7 linked regions of the Homo sapiens genome follow. The protein of the gene in region 1 interacts with the protein of each later gene in a pairwise test. Each region holds a gene or a part of one and is shown in the gene's direction. Other genes may lie near its edges. The genes, in order: SKIL, TSKU, HEYL, ZMYM2, ZMYM5, NID2 and GOLGB1.

What was found.
Region 2: the proteins of SKIL (region 1) and TSKU interact in a two-hybrid assay, tested with the Homo sapiens proteins (one large-scale study listed by BioGRID and IntAct).
Region 3: the proteins of SKIL (region 1) and HEYL interact in a two-hybrid assay, tested with the Homo sapiens proteins (one large-scale study listed by BioGRID and IntAct).
Region 4: the proteins of SKIL (region 1) and ZMYM2 interact in a two-hybrid assay, tested with the Homo sapiens proteins (one large-scale study listed by BioGRID and IntAct).
Region 5: the proteins of SKIL (region 1) and ZMYM5 interact in a two-hybrid assay, tested with the Homo sapiens proteins (one large-scale study listed by IntAct).
Region 6: the proteins of SKIL (region 1) and NID2 interact in a two-hybrid assay, tested with the Homo sapiens proteins (one large-scale study listed by BioGRID and IntAct).
Region 7: the proteins of SKIL (region 1) and GOLGB1 interact in a two-hybrid assay, tested with the Homo sapiens proteins (one large-scale study listed by BioGRID and IntAct).

Annotation. Positions count from the first base shown.
Region 1 is NC_000003.12:170,381,715-170,385,214, forward strand, and holds part of SKIL (ski-like protein), read left to right. Parts: intron 1-2,818; coding exon 2,819-3,051; intron 3,052-3,500. UniProt on the Homo sapiens protein: May have regulatory role in cell division or differentiation in response to extracellular signals.
Region 2 is NC_000011.10:76,786,356-76,789,855, forward strand, and holds part of TSKU (tsukushi isoform b precursor), read left to right. Parts: intron 1-3,500. UniProt on the Homo sapiens protein: Contributes to various developmental events and other processes such as wound healing and cholesterol homeostasis through its interactions with multiple signaling pathways.
Region 3 is NC_000001.11:39,626,290-39,629,643, reverse strand, and holds part of HEYL (hairy/enhancer-of-split related with YRPW motif-like protein), read left to right. Parts: intron 1-2,463; coding exon 2,464-3,137; 3' UTR 3,138-3,354. UniProt on the Homo sapiens protein: Downstream effector of Notch signaling which may be required for cardiovascular development. Transcriptional repressor which binds preferentially to the canonical E box sequence 5'-CACGTG-3'.
Region 4 is NC_000013.11:20,084,227-20,087,726, forward strand, and holds part of ZMYM2 (zinc finger MYM-type protein 2), read left to right. Parts: intron 1-1,595; coding exon 1,596-1,788; 3' UTR 1,789-3,500. UniProt on the Homo sapiens protein: Involved in the negative regulation of transcription.
Region 5 is NC_000013.11:19,846,650-19,850,149, reverse strand, and holds part of ZMYM5 (zinc finger MYM-type protein 5), read left to right. Parts: intron 1-3,500. UniProt on the Homo sapiens protein: Functions as a transcriptional regulator.
Region 6 is NC_000014.9:52,013,560-52,017,059, reverse strand, and holds part of NID2 (nidogen-2 precursor), read left to right. Parts: intron 1-1,784; coding exon 1,785-2,006; intron 2,007-2,603; coding exon 2,604-2,773; intron 2,774-3,500.
Region 7 is NC_000003.12:121,662,742-121,666,241, reverse strand, and holds the end of GOLGB1 (golgin subfamily B member 1), read left to right. Parts: intron 1-1,210; coding exon 1,211-1,316; intron 1,317-1,627; coding exon 1,628-1,762; 3' UTR 1,763-3,041; downstream 3,042-3,500. UniProt on the Homo sapiens protein: May participate in forming intercisternal cross-bridges of the Golgi complex.

The DNA of each region.
Region 1 (3,500 bases):
GAGCCACTGTGCCTGACCACGAATTTATTTCTTTATTTTCAGGCTTTCTTGTTAATCATAGATTATCTTTGAAAATTCAAAATTAGGCTGGGCGCGGTGGCTCATGCCTGTAATCCCAGCACTTTGGGAGGCCGAGGTGGGTGGATCATGAGGTCAGGAGATCGAGACCATCCTGGCTAACACAGTGAAACCCTGTCTCTACTAAAAATGCAAAAAAATTAGCCGGGCCTGGTGGCGGGCACCTGTAGTCCCAGCTACTCGGGAGGCTGAGGCAGGAGAATTGCTTGAACCTGGGAGGCAGAGCTTGCAGTGAGCCGAGATCGCGTCATTGCACTCCAGCCTAGGCGACAGAGCAAAACTGTCTCAAAAAAAAAGAAAAAAAGAAAATTCAAAATTATTTTTAAATAAGTACATTGGTATTTAATGTATTTTTTGTTTCTATTTATCATTATAGGGAAATGGTAGGTGAATTGTATTGTTACTCTTATTAGAAAAAATTTCAAAGAAAGAATCTGAAATGAAATGAATTGTAAATTGCACTGAATATTTGAAATAACCTTTACTATGTGTTTCTATGTGTTTTCTAGAAATAGGTCATTTTCTTTTTGCCCTCAAGTAAAAAATGGAAGTTCTCCTTTAATTTCTTACTTTTCTTCAAGAGGTAAACAAACTCTTCAAGAATTTGGTGTGCAACTTTGATTTTTTTTTTTTTTTTTTTGAGACAAAGTCTCACTGTGTTACCCAGACTGGAGTGCAGTGGCAGGATCTTGGCTCACTGCAACCTCTGCCTCCCAGGTTCAAGCAGTTCTCTTGTCATGGCATCCTGTAGCTGAGCCTGAGCGCCAGCTGTCACTCCTGGCTAATTTTTTTGTATTTTTAGTAGAGATGGGGTTTCACCATGTTGGCCAGGCTGGTTTTGAACCTCAGGTGATCTGCCAGCCTTGGCCTCCCAAAGTGCTGCTAGGATTACAGGTGTGAGCCACCGCCCCGAGCCGCAACTTCAATTTTTTTTTTTTTTTTTTGAGATGGAGTCTCGCTCTGTTGCCCAGGCTGGAGTGCAATGGTATGATCTCGGCTCACTGCAACCTCCGCCTCCCGGGTTCAAGCATTTCTCCTGCCTCAGCCTCCTGAGTAGCTGGGATTACAGGCATCCGCTGCTACGCCCAGCTAATTTTTGTATTTTTAGAAGAGACGAGGTTTCACCATGTTGGCCAGGCTGGTCTCGAACTCCTGACCTCAAGTGACCCACCTGCCATCAGCCTCCCAAAGTGCTGGGATTACAGGTATGAGTCACTGCACCCGGCCTGCAACTTTGATATTTTAAAAAGAAATTCTTTTGAAACTAAGAGCTTTCTTAATAACCGTACTTCTCAAAATCAGAGTTTTACTGTTTCAATAAATGTTCACCCTAGATTGTAAGTTTTTTGTTGTTGAGCCCTAGATTTTTTTCTACTAGTGTAAATCTGTATTCCCTCCAAGTATGGTGATAAGGGGACTGAGTCTTATTTACATTTGTACAATCACTACTTTACCTGTTGTATTTGCAGTAAGTCTTTTGAGCCCTATTAAACCTGTCAATTTTCTTGTCCTGTCAGAAAACTGAGATTTTGGCTCAAAAATGGATGTTATTAACAAAGGGGAACAATATAGATGTCTTAGTACAAAGAAAATGAAATGTAAGAGGAGATTGTCTGGAGTTCAGGGGATAGAGTGTCAAGTCTTAAATGGTTACATCTTTTTGCTAAGTGTTACTCAGAATATAGTTACAAATATGGTACTTAAATATCTAGCTGAAATTTGTTTGTCCCATGAGCTTCTCACATGAGTCTACTGGGCAATTTTATGTGAGTTTTGGTCAAAATTGGTAATCTCTTTTATCTTAGTTTTGCATAATTTATTGTTGCCATTTTATCAAATGAGTAGGAAGTAGTGAAGTATTTCAAGAAGATTGCTCAGTGGGGTTTGATACAAGAACTGCCCAGTAGCTGGGCGACATTCAGAGCTCTCTCTCTGAGGTATATAAGAAGAGCCCTGGGAGCTCCTCACTGAGCCTCCTGTGAGTCAGGACATAGCCTTGCAGTCTGCCACTGAAGCAGCCTCACCAAAGCAAAGATTCCCTGCTTTGGAAGGGTGGTGGGCAAGATAAAGTCCTCCAAAGTAGTTATAGATTATTCTTTTTCTGGAGTAAAACTTACCTGCTCAGAGTTGTTACACAGCTGTATAAAGTCCTTAATGCTTTTAATTCTCAGGTGGTTTTGAGGGAAGGAGAAGAGCCTGTGATTTTCCTTCTGTGTATCTTTTTAGTGCTTAGAAATTACTTGCCAAAAAAAAAAAAAAACACGAAATTACTTGCAAGCTGGTTATGGTTGCTTATGCCTGTAATCCTAGTGCTTTGGGAGTTGGAGGTGGGAGGGTATCACTTGAGCCCAGGAGTTCAAGACCAACTTGGCAGCATAGCAAGACCCTATCTCTAAAAAAAAATGGGTATGTGTGGTCCCAGCTACCTGGGATGCTGAGGCAGGAAGATTGCTTGAACCCAGGAGTTAGAGGTTACAGTGAGCCATGATCATACCACTACGCTCCAGCCTGGGTTACTTGCAAACTAACAAAAAATCCCTTATAATTTTGTTTGTAATGCCTAAAGTGTTGATTTTTTTCCTAAGAATTCTTTACTGTGACCTTTATTTTCTGAGTTGTAATATTGTCTGTTTTGGTTAGAAAAAAAAAAGTTTAACCACAGAAATGCATGTTACATATTTGATTTTTACTTAATTGTAATATGTAATATATGTCTTGTTTTGCTTTTACTTGTTTTCAGCTACTACTTATACATGTGTGATAAAGTGGTTGCCCCAAATGTGTCACTTACTTCTGCTGTATCCCAGTCTAAAGAGCTCACAAAGACAGAGGCAAGTAAGTCCATATCAAGACAGTCAGAGAAGGCTCACAGTAGTGGTAAACTTCAAAAAACAGTGTCTTATCCAGATGTCTCACTTGAGGAACAGGAGAAAATGGATTTAAAAACAAGTAGAGAATTATGTAGCCGTTTAGGTAAGTATTCAGAGATTATCTTTCTAAAATTAAATATCTAATGAACACATTTATTGAGCATTTTCAAACAGGCTTTTTGTTTGAGCTAAATTTTCAGATAATTGGAGCTTTTACCTTTAAAAATGCTACCCTTCAAAACTCTGGGTGATTTATTTTAATCTCAGTTGCTATACTTTTCTAGCGTGGTGATAGCTCAGGAGACTGAGATAGATACAGGCTACCTGGCCTCAGACTGCAAGTTATTTTTGTCCGAATTTTTTTCCTTTCCTACCTTTTATTTGCTGTCAGTCTTCAGGAGATCCTTGTTTTTCTTTCCTCCTTTTTTTTTCTTTTTTTGTGACAGAGTCTTTATCGCCTAGGCTGAAGTGCAGTGGTGAGATTGCGGTCACTGCAGCCTCAACCTTTGGGCTCAAGTGATCCTCCCACCTCACCCTCCCTAGTAGCTGGGA
Region 2 (3,500 bases), on another chromosome or scaffold:
GAAAGCCTCACAGAGGAGGTGGCTTTTTGAATGAAATGTGTGAGAGTTTGCTGGTAGACAAAGAAGGGTATCTTTGCATCAGAGGGAACAACGTGTGCAAAAAGGCAGGTGGCTCTAGAAGAGTCACAGGCCTCTAGACTAGAAAGCTGTCTCTGTGGGATGGGTTTTAAAGAGGGAGCTGTAGTAGGGTCCCAGACTTCTGTTGGGAAGTGCGTTCTGGTGCCAGCATGGCTGGCAGTTGGAGTCAGGCCAGGAGCGAGGCTGTTGCAGCAGGTCTCTTGAGCCTGACCTGGACAGGGGGAGGTGACTGCCCAGCTTAGGGATGAGGGAAAGGGAAGACAGTGACCCCAACTGCCCAGGGGGATCTGCGAATTTGATGCTGAGCCCTCATTCTGTCACAGGCAACACAGCAGCTTTTGCCTGCTTTGGTCTCTGAGACCTTTCCAGCTCACCCTTCCCAGTCTCCTGGGAGTGCCTTGTCAGCATCTTGTAGCCACACTGGGATCCTGGATGGTATGTGGAGAGAGGATCCAAGGCCTCTGGGATGAATTGTGGATTCTTCTCCATCTTCAGCCCCTGCCTTCCCTCAGGATTTGCTGGTGTCACAGCACCTTTTTCTTCCCTGGTCCCTGAAATCACTCACTGGGGACAGGAACCAACATTCAGTGAATACCAACATGTGCCAGGCCAGGTCTGGGTCTTCACTTTGCCTCATGTAATCATCACAGTGACCCGTTAGGACCAGCACTGGGATTATCACCATATTACAGACGAGGACTCAGAGGGGTGAGGGCACGAGCAAGCCTCAGAGCAGTGAAGGCCCTGTTGGGTTGGAACCCAGACTGCCTGGCTACAAAACCCTTGCCCTCTGCCCCATAGCGCCTCCTCATGTGTCCATGTACGCTGCCTCAGGTTGATGGGAACTTGAAAATCTTCAAGAAGAAGACATATTGAAAGGAGAAAATCTTACTGGGAGCCTTGCCCATCTCCCTGTAGATTATCCTCCTTGGGTAAGTTGCTAGGCTTACAGGTCCCTGCGATCATGTCATGGAGGAGGCCAGGTACTGGATGTCAGAATACCTGGGTCCTGGGTCCAGCCCCTGTCCTCTCTGGCTGTGTGACTCTGGACAGATCACAGAACCTCTCTGGACTTCTTAACACAGCTGTAAAGTAGATATGACGCCATCTAACCTGCTGATCCTGCAGGGTGACTGAACAGATGGTAGTTGAGGAAGCATGGGAGAGGTTGAGAGGTGTCCTTTGGTGAGGTAGCGGTATTCTAGATGCTTGGTGCATCTTCACGTGGTGTCTGCTCTGTACCAGGCTCAGTGCTCAGCTTCAAGGGCATAAAAAGGAACCTAATCGCATCCCTGCCCACAGTAGGATAGACAGTTAAACATGTAAGTACAGTTCAGCATGACCAGGTCTAAGCACATGTGCTCATTTGTAAGCTGAGGCAGAGTGGATTTGGAGCTAAGACATCTGGGGTTAAGTCCGGGGTCCTCTCCTTCCCAGCTGAGTAACATCCATTTCTGTGTCTGCAAAATAGGGACAGTATCCCCAGGGTCAAGGCTCTGGTGAGGCAGAAGTGAGATGCTGGTGGAGAGCACATGGTGGGCTGCTGTGTTTGTCCAGATGTGCTGCATTGGTGGGTCTGTTGCAAGAGCTGGCCCTCAGGGCTCCGGGAGTCTGGCCTTGAAATTCTTTCTGCCTTGCGTTTCCAGAGCTGACAAAGTGGTTGGAGGGCAGGACGTTTCTGAACCATCCACCTGGGGATTTCCTCGGCATCAGCTTGAGTGAACTCATGACTGAGGGGAGCAGGGTGGGAGGCAGCTCTGTGTTGAGGAACAGCTGATCGAGACAAAGGCCGGTCTCGGGGGTGCTGGGGCCCTGTACCAGTGGGGCCCTGTGCCAACAGTGCCCTGTGGAAGTTGTCGAGGGCGGTGGGGGGAGCTGGAAAACTTTACAGACCAGAGATGCTGTAGTGCAGCACCAGGGTCAGGCAGCTGGGGCCAGGTAGGTTCAAGCTGGAACCCAACACCCAGAGAGCTGTCCTTATCAGCAGACACCAGGGAAGTGACTGAAGAATGTCATCACAGCCAGTCTCGGACCTGCTGTGCTCCTGGCGCCACACTGGGAACTTGGGTGGGGAGGAACATGAAGGATCACATGGTGACTGCCTTCAGAAGGCTTAGCAAATCACCGTCATTGTCTACCACACATTGAGTATTTGTGTAGCAGATAGTGAGTGGAATGCCTGCCATTCTGTCATTTAATCCTTTCAACAAACCTGTGTTCTTAGCCCTGTTGAGGACCCTCGGAGCGGGTCCCAAGACTTACCCAAGGCTGGTAGGTACAGAGCTAGGTTCACACCTGGTCTGGGTCTTGCGGTTGACCCGTTCATCCTGCTCTTCCTCCACACACCCTCTAGGCCTGGCTCTGATCCCAGGTGGGGGAAAGAACACACAGGTAAAGTAGGCAGGGCACCGCCCCAAGCTGCTTACACATCAAGTAGGAAAACAGCAGGTAACTCACGGCAGAGAATTTACTGAAGGAGGCCTGTGGGTAGCCTGTGGGGTGAGAGGCCAGGAGGGAGGGGTGGCCCGAGGGCCTGAGTGGACAGAACAGGCTTTGTTTTGCTGGGAGCAGGCCAGGGGCAGGCGGGATGGATGCATGCAGTTCTGGCAGTCACATGAGGCATCAGGTCCCAGGTCCTGGGCCCTGCTCTGCCATTCCTTGCTGTCACTGCCCCTCTCTGGGCCCCAGTTGCCCATGATCCCCAAGGGGCCTTCCAGCTCCCAAGCCCTGGAATTCTCCAAGTTTGGAGATGTATTAGCAGAGGCTGAGAGTTGTTCAAAGTCCATCAAGGGAAGGCTGTTCCCACTTTGGCTGTCAAGGAGGGTTCAAATCCAGATGAGGGGCTGGGGACAGGTGGGAGGGGAGAAGAAGGTGGTGACAACTTACAGGTGCCTCGTGCATGGGAGAACTTGATTTCTGTAGGTAAAAAGCAGAACCCAAGAGGTTTCTGATAAGGAGAGTGATGTGGCCAAAGCTGTTTTAGAGGTGTCTCATAGCAGTGTGTGCGGTGTCACCTGGGGAGACCTGCCTGGAGCCTGTTGGGGCCGTACCATTTACTCTTTGTCCTTGCAGGCCATCAGCAAACTTAGAGTCACTGTGGACCTGGCCCTGTGGGCCCAACAATGCATGATTCATGGCCCCTGCACTGGAAGGCCTTACGGTATATCCCCCAAATCACAGATGGATGTGGTTTCTAAGCCCTTGTCCTCCTGTTCTTGTGTTTTATAATCTGGTCAATCAGTGGATATCTTGTATCTGCAGGTCAAGATTTGGAAAAAAATGTTGAATCTTGACTGAAAGATCCCTTTCTCCCTCAGCCTTCTTTGGTGGCTACCAGTCTTCATTTCTCTTTTTCCTGGGGGTAGAGTACGGGTCCCAGAGGGAGGCAGTGTGAATACTGTTACACAGATAAGAAAACCAAG
Region 3 (3,354 bases), on another chromosome or scaffold:
CTCTGTGTATTTGGTGATTTCAAAATTGGGAAACCTTGAAAGCTCCACAGGCCTTGGCCACAAAGACCTAAGTTCCAGAGACCTAACTTACTGCTACAGAAGAGGACAGTAGCATTTTAAGTGGCCCATTCTGGTGCTTCTGAAGCCTCAGTGTATACCATTGTCACCTTGGGGCAGGCAGAATCAGGAGTCATCCCCCAGAGATTCTGAGGCAGTAGGTCTAGATTGAAGTTTAGGAGTTTGCAAGTTTAACAAGCCACCCAATTATCCTGGTGCAGGTGGTCCATTTGGGAACTTCTGCCAAAAAAAATGCATTGCTAAGAGTGGAGACTTCCATCTCTAATGAACCAATGGGGGAGATTCAAATTACATTTATGGTTATCCAGTGAAAAGAAAAGTAGTGACTAATATGTGGATATCATTTGACAGTTTTAAAATGCTTTCACTTGTGTTGTTTCATTTGATTCTCACAAGAACCTGCAAGATGGGGGTTAGTGTTACCACCATTTTCTGACTGTGAACTAATGGGAAGACAGAACTGTGGTTCACGGTATAGGCTTTAGATTTGAATCGGGCTCTACTGGTTACTAGCCGTATGACCTTAGACAAATGATTTAACCTCTCCCCTCCTCAGTTTCCTCATCTCTAAAATGGGAATAATTAGAGGGTTTTATGAGGATTAAATTAGATAACTTGATGAAATGCTTAGTAAGAATTCAGCAAATGTTAGAAAAAAACAGCGGGCCGGGCGCGGTGGCTCACGCCTGTAGTCCCAGCACTTTAGGAGGCCGAAACAGGCGGATCACAAGGTCAGGAGATCGAGACCATCCTGGCTAACACGGTGAAACCCCATCTCTACTAAAAATACAAAAAAAGAAATCAGCCGGGTGTGGTGGTGGGCGCCTGTAGTCCCAGCTACTCGGGAGGCTGAGGCAGGAGAATGGCATGAACCCAGAAGGCGGAGCTTTCAGTGAGTCGAGATCGCACCACTGCACTCTAGCCTGGGCGACAGAGCGAGACTCCGTCTCAAAAATAAAAGAAAAAGAAAAAGAAAAGAACAGCAAAGGCCAGGCGCAGTGGCTCACACCTGTAATCCCAACACTTTGGGAGGCCGAGGTGGGCGGATCACCTGAGGTCAGGAGTTCGAGACCAACCTGGCCAACATGGTGAAACCCTGTCTCTACTAAAAATACAAAAATTAGTCGCTGTGATGGCTGTTGCCTGTAATCCCAGCTACTTTGGAGGCTAAGGCAGGAGAATCTCTTGAACCTGGGAGGCGGAGATTTCAGTGAGCCAAGATCGTGCCACTGCACTCCAGCCTGGGGGACAGAGCGAGACTCCATCTCAAAAAAAATAAAAAAAGAAAAAAAGAACAGCAAACGCAGAAAGGTGAAGGGATTTGCTTGAACTTACATGGCTAAGTGTATAGCAGATTTGGTTCTCACCCACAAGTTGACCTGACTCCAAACATAGTCTCCAGCTGAGCTGTTCCTCTGTGGGGGCCATGAACCAAGGACTAGATATTTGCTGCCATCGTCATGAGACCAGTGCTGGCTGGGGTTGTTGTGTCTTTGCCCAGAAGGTGGTCAAGAGAGGAACAGGTATGGAGAGGCAGTGAGGATGTGAATATTTGTACAGGAAGTTCACCTGGTTATCCATCAAAGAGAGGGTCCCTGGCCGATAACAGCAGCTGAGGATCACAGTGGGGTCTTGCTTTCCAGATTGCCTTTTGAGCCAAGGGACAAACTCAGATGCCAACAAGGCCAAGCCAGTAATATAAGTGATAGCTAACTTTTCATTTATTCAGCATTTTCTGTGCACTATTTTAATTTCACCCTCATAACTCTATACGGTAGGCACTGCTATATCCCCATTTTACAGCTAAGGAAATTGAGGCACAGAGAGATAAAGAGACTTGTCCACAATCAGGCAGCTAGTTAAGTAGCAGAGCCAGGATTTGAACCCAGCTCTCCTGGCTTCCGACGACCTCACACTTCACTGCTACACTACGCTGCCTTCTCCAAGGGGCCTCCTCACTCTGATGGCTGCTGCCGCCACCTCCCTTCCTGGGCATCTGCCCCTCTCAGCAGGCAGAGTTGTTCTACACCTCCAAGTGCATAACCTTTCATATCTGTCAAGTATCTACTTCAATGAAGTTATCTTGGCCACAAAGTTTTTTCTTTGCATTAATCATGAATTGTGATGAAAGCAATATTTTACATTTTATAATGCTTCATAGTTTAGTGAATTCATTGATCATTATAACCCATCATCCTCCACCCCAGGAAGGGATTTTTGTTCTCACTTTGCAGATGGGGAGACAGGCTCAGAGAGGCAGGATGACATGGCCACGGCTGCCCAGGGAGTGAGTGGAGGAGGCAGGTCCAGAACTCAGACAGTCAGACCCAGGCTCCATGCTTCTCCCCACACCTGGCATGACCTTCATCACGCCTCCCTTTGCAGGATTCTTTGATGCCCGAGCCCTGGCAGTTGACTTCCGGAGCATTGGTTTTCGGGAGTGCCTCACTGAGGTCATCAGGTACCTGGGGGTCCTTGAAGGGCCCAGCAGCCGTGCAGACCCCGTCCGGATTCGCCTTCTCTCCCACCTCAACAGCTACGCAGCCGAGATGGAGCCTTCGCCCACGCCCACTGGCCCTTTGGCCTTCCCTGCCTGGCCCTGGTCTTTCTTCCATAGCTGTCCAGGGCTGCCAGCCCTGAGCAACCAGCTCGCCATCCTGGGAAGAGTGCCCAGCCCTGTCCTCCCCGGTGTCTCCTCTCCTGCTTACCCCATCCCAGCCCTCCGAACCGCTCCCCTTCGCAGAGCCACAGGCATCATCCTGCCAGCCCGGAGGAATGTGCTGCCCAGTCGAGGGGCATCTTCCACCCGGAGGGCCCGCCCCCTAGAGAGGCCAGCGACCCCTGTGCCTGTCGCCCCCAGCAGCAGGGCTGCCAGGAGCAGCCACATCGCTCCCCTCCTGCAGTCTTCCTCCCCAACACCCCCTGGTCCTACAGGGTCGGCTGCTTACGTGGCTGTTCCCACCCCCAACTCATCCTCCCCAGGGCCAGCTGGGAGGCCAGCGGGAGCCATGCTCTACCACTCCTGGGTCTCTGAAATCACTGAAATCGGGGCTTTCTGAGCTGCCCCTTCACCACCCCGCCCCAAGGAATAAGGAAGGTTCTTTTACCAGGAGCCCAAAAAAGGGCACTGCCTTTTCTGCTTTGCTTCATGGACTGGCTCATATGTGAAGGCACGTTCTCCAGCCATCAGAGGCCCCCTCCTCCTCCAACCCATCTCTCCTTCTCACTGTTATCCCAGCTTATCCACCCAGCTCTCCTGGAGCTGTTCTGGTCTCA
Region 4 (3,500 bases), on another chromosome or scaffold:
GGTCTTGAACTCCTGACCTCAAGCCATCCTCGTGCCTCAGCCTCCCAAAGTGCTGGAATTACAGGCATGAGCCATTGCGCCTGTCATTGTCTTTTAAATTACAGCAATTCCAATGACAGCAAAGCAAGGGACACAAACTTTTTCTTAAACGGTCAGATGGTAAATATTTTAGGCTTTTGGGCCTATGGAATCACTATTGTAACTAATCGGTTCTCTTGTGACTAGAAAGCAGCCATATACTATATATAAATTCATGGCATGTGGCTGTGTTATAATAAAACTTCACATAAGCAGGTGGCTGGCTGTAGTTTGCCAATGCCCGGTGTAAAGGTATGCTCAAAGGTAGTATAGATAGGTGGAAATGTAAGTGAAGTATTTACATTTAAGAGAAAACAGTCAAGCAGGTATGAAAAATGGAATCATGTTCTGGAATTTTTTTTCCCCTCAATCTCAGACCAACAGGCATTTTAAAAAGTTTAAGCCAATAAAACGTTTAGAGACCATAGATTATTTTATGCTTGCCTGTTGTTTTAAGTAAGCACTCTCTAATTTTCAGAAGGTCAGCATGAATTCAAAATGTACTTCCCTGTTTAAACAAATTTATAAATCACAGGTCCCCAGGATGGCCCTCAAGGACTTGTAAAAACAATAGTATCATGTATAGGATGATATTAGTACAAGTTGAATGCGCCTTATCCAAAATGCTTCTGACCAGAAGTGTTTTAGATTTCAGATTTTTTCGGATTTTGGAATATTTGCATATACATTATAAGATGTCTTAGGGCTGGGACCCAACTCTAAACATGAAATTCATTTATATTTCATATACACCTTATACATGTAGCCTGAAGATAATTTTATTTATGCATAGCCTGAAGGTGATTTTATTTTCCCCTTGGGGTTGCTGAATAACCTGTGTGTTATGTGCCTGTGTTTTGGGCGCGAACTCCTCACATGAGGTCAGGTGTGGAACTTTCCACTTTTGGTGTCATTTTGGCAAAGAGTTTCAGATTTTGGATTTTTGAATTAGGGATGCTCAGCCTGTATTTCTCACCATGGTTTAGGGTGGTCCTATTTGGCTGCAGTAGTGTCAGGGTCTTCAGTTGGTAGTAACTATTTGTTAGTAGGAAATTCCTATCTCACTATTACCTTGTTGGTATTTTAAAAATTGAGTTTCTATTATGTAGTGCTGTAAGAATTTTTTAATTTTATGTGCTGCCATACATATTTCATCAATTCTAAGACATTTTCACATTTCACTATTTCTGAAACTGGGATGCACAGTTTAAATTGTTGCATCTTGAAATCATAATTGGCAGTGTTTCACTTGCTTAATGGTAGCATTAAAATAATGAGTGGTGTGTCTATTGATAGTGTCTTGGATTTAGTGAAGTAGAATTAAAATTGTGGGAAATAATCTCTATCTCAGAAAATAACTTTGAGAATATTTTAATGACAGAATAATGGAGACAGTGGGGCATAGGGGGTCTGGTCATATAACGTGATTAATGGGGTCTGAATTATTCTTGAAAAAAGAAAAAGTTGTGGAAATTTTGTGAAATTGACTTTTTCTCTTTTTCCTCCCGCCTCCAAAGTCCACAGAATCTTAATCAGAGGATGGATGTTTTTTATTTGCAACCAGAATGCTCTAGTTCTACAGATAGCCCTGTCTGGTATACGTCTACTTCACTGGACCGAAACACCTTGGAAAATATGCTTGTACGGGTTCTTCTAGTAAAAGATATTTATGATAAAGACAATTATGAACTGGATGAAGACACAGACTAAAAAGGAACGTTGCAGAAGCAATCGGGATAAAACAGCATTAGATAGTCATGCTGCTAGATCTTTATTATGGAAAACATTTCAAGTTTACTCCTTCTGTTTTGAGTTTTGTAGCAGTGTACCCACGCTGGGTATTACCATGTAAATAATCTGTGAGTGAAAGTTGCCATTATTCTATGTAGTGGTTTTAGGATACTTAACAAATACATTCAAATTCTTTTTTTATTATTATTTATTTGATTAGGTATGTTTGTAACTTTTTACATTACAGAATATGAATGAGAATGTGCCATGTATAATTTTTTTCTTGTAGTAAGAAACATCCATATTGCACAACTCTACTGTTGCAAAGCTTCCTTGGAAGGGGGCTCTTTTACTGGGTTCTTAACCAGATGGTTGTGTATGGGTAGCACTACTAAAAGTTTAGAACTTGCAGTGTCTTTCGGAATTTTTAAAATAAACTGTAAACTAATAGGCTGGGGTTTTTGTTTTGTTTTGGGGTTTTGTTTTGTTTGGTTTTACATTTTAGTTACTGAAGCCTTACAAGGTTATGTAGAGAGATACCATCTTCTGTACCAAAAATAGACAAGAGAATGCTGTCAATATTGGTGTACTGTAATGTGAATCTATGCTGGTGAAAACAATTTTTTGTTCCCCTTATTAAAACCTTAGTGTCCTTTTCTCATTTGTGGCTTTCTGCATCACCCAATCAATAAAAAACAAATATATATATGTATATATATGTATGTATGTGTGTGTGTATATATATATATATATATATATATATAAATGATTGTAAGTTGAAAACAAGATCATCAAGACATTTCCTTTGTAAAAATGTCTGGTGAAAGTATAAAATTCTGTTTTCTTCTATGCCAGCCATAAGTATCTGAAATCCTCTTCATTTATAGAGGTTTGATTTTTATTTCTTTTTTTCCCTCTTAAGGATACAGATCATGCTGCAATGTTAGCTGTGTAGTACTCTAAAACTTAGCAATTTTATCAGAATTCTTGTGCCTGTTTACATTGGATAAAATTGTTTTTAGAAATTCCACTCCTGAAATAGTTACAGAAAGTCAAGCTATGTTAAATAAGATAGGATCACATTTTATAATGAAGATTACCAGTGTAGTAATTCTGATATTGCAAATGATTGAGGAACAAACAAAGAAACTAATAGAGAAAGTCAGTCTCAGAGGAAATCCCATTTAATGTTAGATTGTTTGGCTTTTGAAATTACTTCTTATAGAAGATTGCATTAAAAAAAAAAACAACTTTGTGCTTCTGCATAGCAATTTATCCATTCAGACCTTTTCTTTTAGAATAAGGAAACTTAAAATCTACTTTCTAAAGACTGAACAAAGTGCTAGCTGCAAATTATCTTGAAATCATTTGGCTCTTTTCTAGCATGTGTGTAATCATGTTTTCTTCTGATTCCTGAATGACCATGGTAGCATTAGTGTTTAGAAATTGTTCAGGGGAAAATTGAGCTATTTTCCATAGTGGCTAGCAATTGCTACACATCCTTAGATACTCCTCTCTCCCATAGGATAAATGTTACAGCACACAAAAGAAATTTTCTCAATTCTGATTTGGAAAATTTCACAGGTGTCATTATTGTATATCTAAGCAATAATTATCTGAATGTTTTGGCATAAAAAATTATAATGTTCTAACTTGTTTTATAAGTTGAATGACTTTTCAGTCCCTTGATT
Region 5 (3,500 bases), on another chromosome or scaffold:
TGCTTTTATGTGACTTGTGAGGGGTTTGGGGGAGAGTTGGTATTGTTTTTTTGACCATTTTAGTGTTTATAGCCTGTTGAATTTTAGGAAAGTACTGAAAAGTAACGAGAACCTGAGAACCTAATCATGTTGTTGCCTTCAGGAAAATAGTGCTTTTTCCCTTTTTTTTTTTTGAGACAGAGTCTCTGTCACCCAGGCTGGAATGCAGTGGCACGATCTCGGCTCACTGCAACCTCTGCCTCCTGGGTTCAAGTGATCCCCGGGCCTCAGCCTTCCGAGTAGCTGGGATTGCAGGCGTGTGCCATCACGCCTAGCTAATTTTTTGTATTCTTAGTAGAGATGGGGTTTCACTATGTTGGCCAGGCTGGTCTCAAACTCCTGACCTCAAGTGATTCACCCGCCTCAGCCTCCCAAAGTGCTGGGATTACAGGCCTGAGCCACCGCGCCCGGCCAACTTTTTTCCTTATTTTTAAAATTAATTTTATCTTCTGGTTACGAAATACTATGTGATTATTATAGAATATTTAGAAAAAAATCATAGAAATCAGAAAATATGTCTCCTTACCCCAGTAACTAGAAATAATGTGACCACTGTGAAGAATTTGGTTTGTTTGCTTTCAATCTTTGGTTTTTAAAAATATAATTTAGAGCACTTTTTATATTGTTTTGTATCCTGCTGATTTACTTAATCTAAATGCTAATATTTTATGTCATCATAAAAATATAGGCTGGGTGCAGTGGCACACCCCTGTAATGTCATCGCTTTGTGAGGCCAAGGAAGAAGGATCACTTGAGGCCAGGAGTTTGAACCCAGCCTCAGTAACGTAGCGAAGACCTCATCTCTATAAAAAGTAAAAAAAAATTAGCCAGGCGCCATGATGTGCACCTGTAAACTCAGCACTTAAGGAAGCTGCGATGGGTCAGTTGAGACCTGGAGTTTGGGGTCACATTGCGCTTTAATCCTACCGCTGCACTCCAGCCTAGGCAACAGAGTGGGACTCTGTCTCTAAAAATATGTATATATAAGTTTTAGTAACCACAAAATATTTGTCTGAAGTACTCATTCCCCTATGTATTTTTTTCATCATTTACATGCTTTTTCATTGTTTTGAAGCTACAATAAATACGTATGTTTACATTTTTTATTTTTTCCATAGGGTACTTATTCTCAATTTTTTTGGTCTCAGATTCACTCTTAAAATGAAGACCCCAAAGGTTTCTTTTATTTCTATTATTAGATATATTAAAAATTAAAGCTTTAGCCAGGTATAGTGGCGTGCACCTGTAGTCCCAGCTATTCAAGAGGCTGAGGTGGGGCTGGGCATGGTGGCTTACACCTGTAATCCCAGCACTTTGGGAGGCCAAGGCAGGTGGATCACTTGAAGTCAGGATTTTGAGACCACCCTGGCCAACGTGGTGAAACCCCATCTCTACTAAAAAAATTAAAAAGTAGCCAGGCATGGTGGCATGTACCTGTAGCCCCAGTTACTCAGGAGGCTGAGGCAGGAAAATCACTTGAACCTGGGAGGCAGAGGTTGCAGTGAGCCCAGATCACTCCACTGCACTCCAGCCTGGGCGACAAAGTGAGACTTGTCTCAAAAAAAAACAAAGAGGCTGAGGTGGGAGGGTCACCTGAGCCCAGGAGTTTGAGTCCAGTCTGGGCAACATAGCAAGACCTAATGTCTTTAAAAAATAATAATAATGGATGGACGTAGTAGCTCACATCTGTAATTGCAGCACTTTTCGTAGGCTGAGGCAGGAGGATCACTTGAGCCGAGGAGTTTGAGGCTACAGTGAGCCATGATCACAACACTACACTCCATCCTGGGTAATAGAGTGAGACCCGGTCTCAAAAAATAATAATTACCTGGGTGTGGTGGCTCTCACCTGTAATCCTAGCATTTTCAGAGGCCAAGGCTGTCGGATCACCTGAGGTCAGGAGTTCAAGACCAGCCTGGCCAACATGGTGAAACCCCGTCTCTTACAAAAATACAAAAAACAACAAAAAAAAATTAGCTGGGTATGGTGGCATGCTCCTGCAGTCACAGCTACTTGGGAGGCTGAGGCATGAGAATTGCTTGATCTCAGGATGCTGAGGTTGCAGTGAGCTGAGATCATGCCACTGCACTCCAGCCTGGGCGACAGAAATTTTTTTGTTTCAAAAAATAAGATAAAATCTTAAGAAAAATTAAAACTAGTCCGGGCGCAGTGGCTCACGCCTGTAATCCCAGCACTTTGGGAGGCCGAGGTGGGCGGATCACGAGGTCAGGAGATCGAGACCATTCTGGCTAACACAGTGAAACCCGTCTCTACTAAAAATACAAAAAAAAAAAAAAAAAAAAAAAATTAGCCGGGCATGGTGGCAGGTGCCTGTAGTCCCAGCTACTCGGGAGGCTGAGGCAGGAGAATGACCTGAACCCGGGAGGTTGCAGTGAGCCAAGATCACGCCACTGCACTCCAGCATGGGCGACAGAGTGAGACTCCATCTCACAGAAAAAAAAAAAAAAGAAAAATTAAAACTATTCATTTCACAATAATTACCCATTATATAACATAAATAACATTTGTAATGAAAAATAACTATTTTCAAAGAAATTTAGTGAAAAGTAACATTGTCTTACATTTTTGCAAATCTCTTTAAAATCTGGCTTAATAGAAGACAGGTATATCTGGCTTCTCATATGTATTTCTGTATTGAGTCTGTTGTAGTATTTTGTTTTGCTTGAAGTATAAGAAGAAAATCTGGCCTCACATAGATAGGTGGTTGGAGAAGGGAGGACTATTTTCCACGTCTTTTTAGATGTGGATAGTTTTCTTTTGATGCAGCACCAAAACTTGACAATTAGTAGTTTTCGAGGTTGTTACAATGTGGGATTTGTAACCGTATAATTAAGTTTTCATCACCAGGCGCAGTGGCTCATGCCTATAATCCCAGCACTTTTTGAGGCCAAGGCAGGCGGATCACTTGAGGCTGGGAGTTCGAGACCAGCCTGGCCAACATGACAAAACCCCATCTCTATTAAAAATGCAAAAAATTAGCTGGGTGTGGTTGTGCATGCCTGTAGTCCTAGCTACTGGGGAGGCTGAGACACAAGAATCACTTGAACCTGGGAGGCCTAGGTTGCAGTGAGTTGAGATCATGCCATTGCACTCCAGCCTGGGCAGCAGAGCGAGACTGTCTCAAAAAAATTTTTTTCATACTGTTTATTTTTAATTTTTTTATGTGTCAGCATCCCACTCTGTTTCCCAGACTAGAGTGCAGTGCCATGATCATAGCTCACTGCAGCCTCAAACTTCTGGGCTCAAGTTATCCTCCCACCTCAGCCTCCTAAGTAGCTGAGACTACAAGTGCATGCCATAACACCCTGCTAGTTTTTTTTTTCCTTAAAAAAAAGGGGGGGACTGTATTTGGTACAGACTGGTCTATTAGTTTAAAATCTATTGATTTTGAATGGATTTTTAACCTTTGTATTAATAACATTGTGCATTGGTTATTTGGA
Region 6 (3,500 bases), on another chromosome or scaffold:
CTGTGTTCCTTGAGACACATTTGGCTGAAGAAGTCAGAGTCTTACCTTCTCCACGGGGTCTTAAAAAGAGCTTTGTCTCCCATGGGTCATGAGCTACAGTGACAACTTAACGGCATTCGCTTCCCCCAATTCTGGTGAGTCGTGCAGTTGAGCTAGAGCTAGTTGGGTTTGAGCTCTGACAACTTCATTCGCAGTCTTTTGTGTTCCAAGAGGAATTGTAGGTGCTGGAACCTGATCATAATGCTCCCAGCTTTGTTCTTTAGAGTCACTGGAGGGTTTTGAACGGAGTGACATGAAATGCCTTTATGTTTAAAATGGGCCATTCTGGCTGCTGCTAATTGAATTTACACTGGTTTTGGAGAGAGTGAGGGCATAGAAGGGTGGAAGCAGGAAAACCAGTGGGAAGGCTGTTGCAGAAATTGCAGGGAGAGGATGAGGCTTTTTGACCAGGGTGAGGGGGTGCAGTAGTGAGAAGTAAAGATATTCTAAGTGGATTCTGAAGTTACCCCTAAAAAGAGTTTTTGACATATCAAATGTGGATGGTGAGAGAAAGGAGGGTCAAGGATAATTAGGTCTGAGCAGTGGAAAAATGGAGGTGCCATTTACTCATATGGGAAAGACCAGGGGAGCAGCTGGTTTGATGGTGAAGGCAGGGGCTCAGTTTCTATTAGTTTCTGATTTCTATTATACATCTAAATGGTGGTAGCAAGTAGGGTTATTGGCTATGTGATTCTGCAGACCATGTGCTTTAAGTTGCAGGAATTAAAAAGGAAGGAGAAGCACCTCCTCTTGTTTAAGTTCCTTTGGGTAGTCCTAACATAAATGAACAAGTTATCTCAATAACCTTCTGCAGCAGAGTCTTCTCAGAACAACCTGTATTTTGGACAAAGCCTCAATGGCACTGTGGAAGCAGCCTGGGAGGAAACTGCTTTGCAACCAAAGCCAGCAGGACTTCAACCATGGAGTGAGCTGTGAGGGAGGGGACAAGAGGAGAGGATGCTGGAGAAAGGGGGGGAAAGGGCAACACGGCAGGAAGCTAGAGCCTGCAGGAAAAGATTCAGCTTTGAGATAATCCCAGGCGCAGGGTGGCTAAAGCAATTCTGGAAACTGGGCTGTGGAAGAACCATTTTTAAGCTGTTTGCCACCACCTCTGCTATGCTTTACTACTAATTCCACTCAGTTTTACCTTTACTCCATGTAGTTTTCCAGTGGGTAGACAGAGGGCACCGTGGCGCTGGGCTTTCAGTAATACTTTCTAAGACACACACTGGCCAGTCGCAAGATGGCCCTCTCCTCAGCAGCTTCGAGCTTGAAGCTTGAAGCAAGTGGGGAATGAATACAAATTGGCTTTAAGCATCACCTCGGCTACTGAGTCCCCAAGGATCACCTGCACAAGTGCTCTGTCAGCAGAGGCGCCCGAGGTACAGGCAGGATGGGCCTTGTGGGCCTCTCCTGGCCAGAAGGAGATCATGCCCCTTCCCAGGCTGAGTGAGCTGCACTGCTGATCTTACCTCCTCTTGTTCTTTCTTGATGTGGCTGGGCCTTGATGACAGACCCTCCTGGCAAGAAAGAAGCATCACATGATCTATTTCTGATTCCCATGGTGGAGAAGTACTTAGAACACATTTGCTTCCCAAGTTTGGTGTCCACGGGCTTGGCTGAGACCTGGACAGTAGGAGAAGGAAGGCCAGGAGGCCAGGCATGGGGTCTTGAGCTACATTTTGCATTCTGTCCTTGACTCACAATCAAAGGTTTTTCTTCTTCCCTCTTCCCCATCTGCTCAGAGCCCACCCAGAGGCCCCCGACCATCTGTGAGCGCTGGAGGGAAAACCTGCTGGAGCACTACGGTGGCACCCCCCGGGATGACCAGTACGTGCCCCAGTGCGATGACCTGGGCCACTTCATCCCCCTGCAGTGCCACGGAAAGAGCGACTTCTGCTGGTGTGTGGACAAAGATGGCAGAGAGGTGCAGGGCACCCGCTCCCAGCCAGGCACCACCCCTGCGTGTAAGCACCTGGCCGCCCCCGCTCCCCTCAGCTGTATCTAAGGCCTTTGCTAGGGATGGTGCCTGCTGTGGTGAAGTGGGGGGACATGTGGGGTCACCAGGTCTAATGAAAGAAGTCACTATGTGCTATGTTGATTTATAATCTGGTCCACACAAGATCCCAATTTGCGTTTGGTGTCTGGTTTTTGTCATTAGCAGCTTCCATAATTGGAACATCTGCAACTCGGTTCAGCAGGCAGTTACTCCCCCTCCCCAGCCCAGGGTGACAGGGGACACGTGTCACTCTGGAGTCCTAAAAGGAAGCTGACACAATGCTGGCTCTGTTTTTTTTTTCTCTTGAAAAAAAAATCTGTTCTGCTTTGTTCTGAGGGAAGTGTTTTGCTGTCTTCTTCCCTAGTAAATGGCAGATTTACATAATTGATCCTTAAAAAAACCCTAGAAATTAGAATTTCTTTTGAAGAACATCTGGAGCACATCTGCGTAGGGCGAAGAACTTTTGATATTTTTGGAGGCTCTGGTATGTGGTAAAGTAACTTTTCTTCCCATCTCCCTGCCTGCCCTTGTTCCCCTTCCTGCTCTCCCACCCTCTCTCCCACAGGTATACCCACCGTCGCTCCACCCATGGTCCGGCCCACGCCCCGGCCAGATGTGACCCCTCCATCTGTGGGCACCTTCCTGCTCTATACTCAGGGCCAGCAGATTGGCTACTTACCCCTCAATGGCACCAGGCTTCAGAAGGATGCAGCTAAGACCCTGCTGTCTCTGCATGTAAAGTGGATTTCTCCTGTAGGGGGCAGGGCTGCGTGGCTTTCCCAGTGGGAGCCACCTCACAGGCCCTGTTGCAGTGAGGTGGACTGGTGCAGGGAAGTCCTGGAGGGTTTCTGAGCTGCAGCCCATCGGCATGGGCCCGATGCCACCACCATAGGACCAGGGCTCTCTCTTGCTGGGAGTCACCTGTCACTGACCAAGGCTGTGCTCTCTGGTTCGTTCATGGAGTTTCAGATAATATGGAAAGGGAACTTTAGAGTTGTCAGCACATGGAGGCTGTATGGTGATCCAAGGGAAAATGGACCGACTCTTACCCTAAGTCCCCAGGGTTGTATGTCATAACATCTCCATGGAAATCCTGGAAATCAAAGTGACAGGACAACTAGTCACAAGGTGTGATCTCTGCGGTTTGTTGGGGACTCCAAGTGGAAGTCAGTTAATGACTGTCTCACCGTTGCAGCCCTTCCCTTTCACTTTGGTTCTGTCCCTTTGACCCACTTCTTTCCTAACCTTCCCTGACTCCATAGATGAAAACTTGAGGAGTGTGTGATGCTGGGAGAGGAGTGGATGGAGCCTTCCCCAGGGGATGTTTGATGCTTCCTGAGCCAGCAGCCTCCCTAATGCAAGGCACCCCATTTTGGGGAGCGGGTTTTCTCAAAAATGGAGGAAAAAAAAGGGTGGCTGTCTCGAATGGCATCGACACAGTGGAAAATCATCTGATTCCATT
Region 7 (3,500 bases), about 49 Mb from region 1:
AAGGGCTGCCTGCCTAGTCCAGGTACTGCCATTGTAATGTTAGAATCTCACATGTACTCTAAAGAGCAGGTGGAACTCAGTGGCCCTCCAGTTTAAAGGCAGCCAGTACCATCTTCCTCATCAATACCTACAGACTTCTCATCCTTCCTCAGCATAGCCTACATTGACAGACTGACCTCCATAGTAACAGACCATGCTGTTCCAGATCAAAGCTGCTTCTGAAAAGCTTATCACATGGAGGAATAGACACAGAAGGTGTATTTTTTAGTCAGCCTGGCTCTCAGGAGGGAAGCAGGAAAGAAGGAGCTAGGCTGTGCATGCTCAGTTCTCTTTCTAGACTCACAAATTGGATTAAGGTGTTTCTTCTCTCCCGGGGAAAAGAATGTGTCCTGCAGAGAGCCCAAGAATATTAAACTAATAGATATCCTTTCAGAAGGAGAAAACACAAAGAGTAGAGGCAAGAGTTTCATCCTCTCTTCCCTATTGAAAAAGTTCATCCCTATAGGCAAATGCTTGATCAAACGTGCTGTGTTACATGCAGCTCCTTTGTTTGTTTGACATAACCATTGAGTGAGTAATGGCAGCTTCTTCATTAAATGGAGAAGTTCCAGTATTAAATAAGCAAATCAGCAAAAACTGAGCCAGAAGGCAGTGGAGACTGCCAATTCAATTTAATTTTTTTTAGTTCAATTTAATTTTTAAAACCCCACAGAAATCTTCTTTGGATGCTTTTGCCTATTAGCCTTTAATAAAAGAAAAAAATGTAATGAGTTTCTCCAAGTCAGGTGTGGTGTGGTGGAAAAAAGAACGTGAGGCTTGAAAGACAAAGTTGGGTATTGAATTCTGGCTCTGCCGCTTACTGGCTGTGCCGCCATGGGCAAGTAATTTAACCTCTGTAAGCCTTAGCACTTTGAAGATAATAAGACCAACCTCAGAACCTGAGGATTAAATGTATGTAAAGCACCCAGCCTAGAGCCTGATACATAGTGAGTAGGCAGTCAATTCCTGATAGTTATTGTCACATTTTGCTGCTGCTGAAGGAAACGTATCTGCTGGTACCCCCCTTGCATGGGTTTGGGTTTATGGGAGCAGCTTTTGCTGCAAGTCTCCTCCTGTGCTGCATTGTGTGGCAGGATGACTGGGAAGACTGGGCCTGATCAGCCTCTCATGCTATGAACCAATGCTATGCCTCTTTTTTTTCTCAACTCAGGTTAGAGCACAGTGAATGGGACTCTTCCCGGACTCCTATCATTGGCTCCTGTGGCACTCAGGAGCAGGCACTGTTAATAGATCTTACAAGCAACAGTTGTCGAAGGGTAAGAGGAAGAAGGATAAAGAGAGGGTGTTTTATTATCTGACAGGGCTGGCTATACTGGGGGCAAGGAGCTGAGGAGAAGGAATGTGGAAGTCCAGCCACTGAGCAGCGAATGAGTCTAAGGCTGGAAGGGCGTGGAAGATTAGAACCTGGTGGAATTTGCCAAGTTGTTGACTCTGAGGCAACTTTCCTCTCAGAATACCCCTTTCTACAGTGGTTGGGTCAGCTTTGCTTAAGTGCAAGACTAGTAGGAGGGAAAGCAACATAGCCCTATAGGGTGAAAACTCTCTGACTTTCACATTTTTCTTTCAGACCCGGAGTGGCGTTGGATGGAAGCGAGTCCTGCGTTCACTCTGTCATTCACGGACCCGAGTGCCACTTCTAGCAGCCATCTACTTTCTAATGATTCATGTCCTGCTCATTCTGTGTTTTACGGGCCATCTATAGACTTAGTTGTTACTCTTTGGACCACTCCCCTCAAAACTTGGAATTCTCTCACCTCTAACATCAGAACATCAATTCCAGTGGAACAGTCTTCCCATTTACAGGTCTTCTCTCCAACTCTTCACGGAAAGTGCCTGCAAAAACAGAGGTGGATACGAGGACAGGTTGGAGCTGCAGGGACTGGCGAGTCTGCTTTCTTCTACTGCCCTGAGCCTGAACGCTTCTGCTTAATCTGAGAATCACATTTGGTTTGTTGAGCCTAATATTTGTTGAGATTTTGCAGGACCCTGATCTTTTGTGGTCCTGTAAAAGATACTGAGGAATGTCTTTCAGCCAAGCCAAGAGGATGGTTTCAATAAACCTAATAATCTGAAGTTCAGTATCATTTTGATTGATAACTTTCTTTGCCTTGTTTGCCTGTATTTTCTCCTGTTTCAGGGGGAAGGTGGCTCTGCCATAAACAGAGTTCAGGGAAATGAACATGTCACCTCATAGGACATCTGATTTAGGTCTCTTGCAGAATAGGGTGGTGAAAGCTGAAGGAACTCCCTAGGGGTTTTAGCTGTTAGATCACATGGGAGGACAGCATCTTCTTCCCTGCCAATTTCAGATATAATTGGAGGGAGAATTTCAGGTCTTAGACTATAAGGATAGAATCCCTTTGCTTTTGCCCTTGATCACATGTATACTAAGGTATTAAGTGGCCCAAGTCTTTCCTTTCACCAAAGGGCAGGGAGAAGTGTCTATGGACAGCAGGGTTCCAATTCTTGTCATTCCAGGAATATCTGAATATTCCTGGAATGTGGACCCTGAGACAGTGCTCAGGGGCCACTGGGAGCCAATATTAGGCATTGACTCTCAGCCAGGAGTCTGACTGGTCTAACACCACACTGCAACTCCTGACCTCTTGAAGTACTAAGCTACTTTGCTGTTAGTGACAGTTATTACAGTTTCTCAGCCCCATTGTCTCTGCCCTCTGTGGCAATGGAAGGAGAATATAGAGAAGACAAAATTAAATATAGATAGACCTGAGAAGGACAGCCAGGATAGAATTCCATTTGTGCCTATTCCCTGCCTCCCCTCCCCTCCCCCATCCTACCAGTTGGTTATTTTCTCATTGCATACGTGATGTGTTCACTGCCTAGCCTCTCCCTAAAGAAGAGAGAAGACAAGTGGGCTGACTGATCTGCTCTAAATCTACTGTGGTGATTAAATCTTGGTTACAACATCCTGGGAAGTTTCCTGAACAACTGTAAAATAATAAAATTATTTTCAGAATGAAGAGTTTGTGTGTATGTGTGTGTACGTGTGAGTGAATGGATATGTGCACAGGTGTTTCGGTACCTGTGTTTGCATGCTGGGGGGTGGAAGGTGGGTAAGGGAAGTAGGGAAAGGAGGTAGCCAGGAATGGTTATAGGGGTAGAAAGCTCTACATATTCAGGCTTTCTTCTCACTGGCCAATATCAGTGACAGCTGCATGCATTTTTCCAGCCTTAGCTGCTAGACCCCAGGTGATGAATGCAGTGAGGAAATTCTATCCTAATACTGAACCAAATAAGCTGGGCCTTAGGGCATGAAATTGATGCAGGTCCATGCATGGTCCTGGGAGAACTCTTGTCTGGCACATAGTGAAAACATTAGGCCCCTAGGGATCCCTCTGGGTGGGAATGGGAGAAGAGAAGCTTAATAGCATGTAGCAGGTTAGATAGGCATTATTATGTTTTGTTTTGTTTTGTTGGGT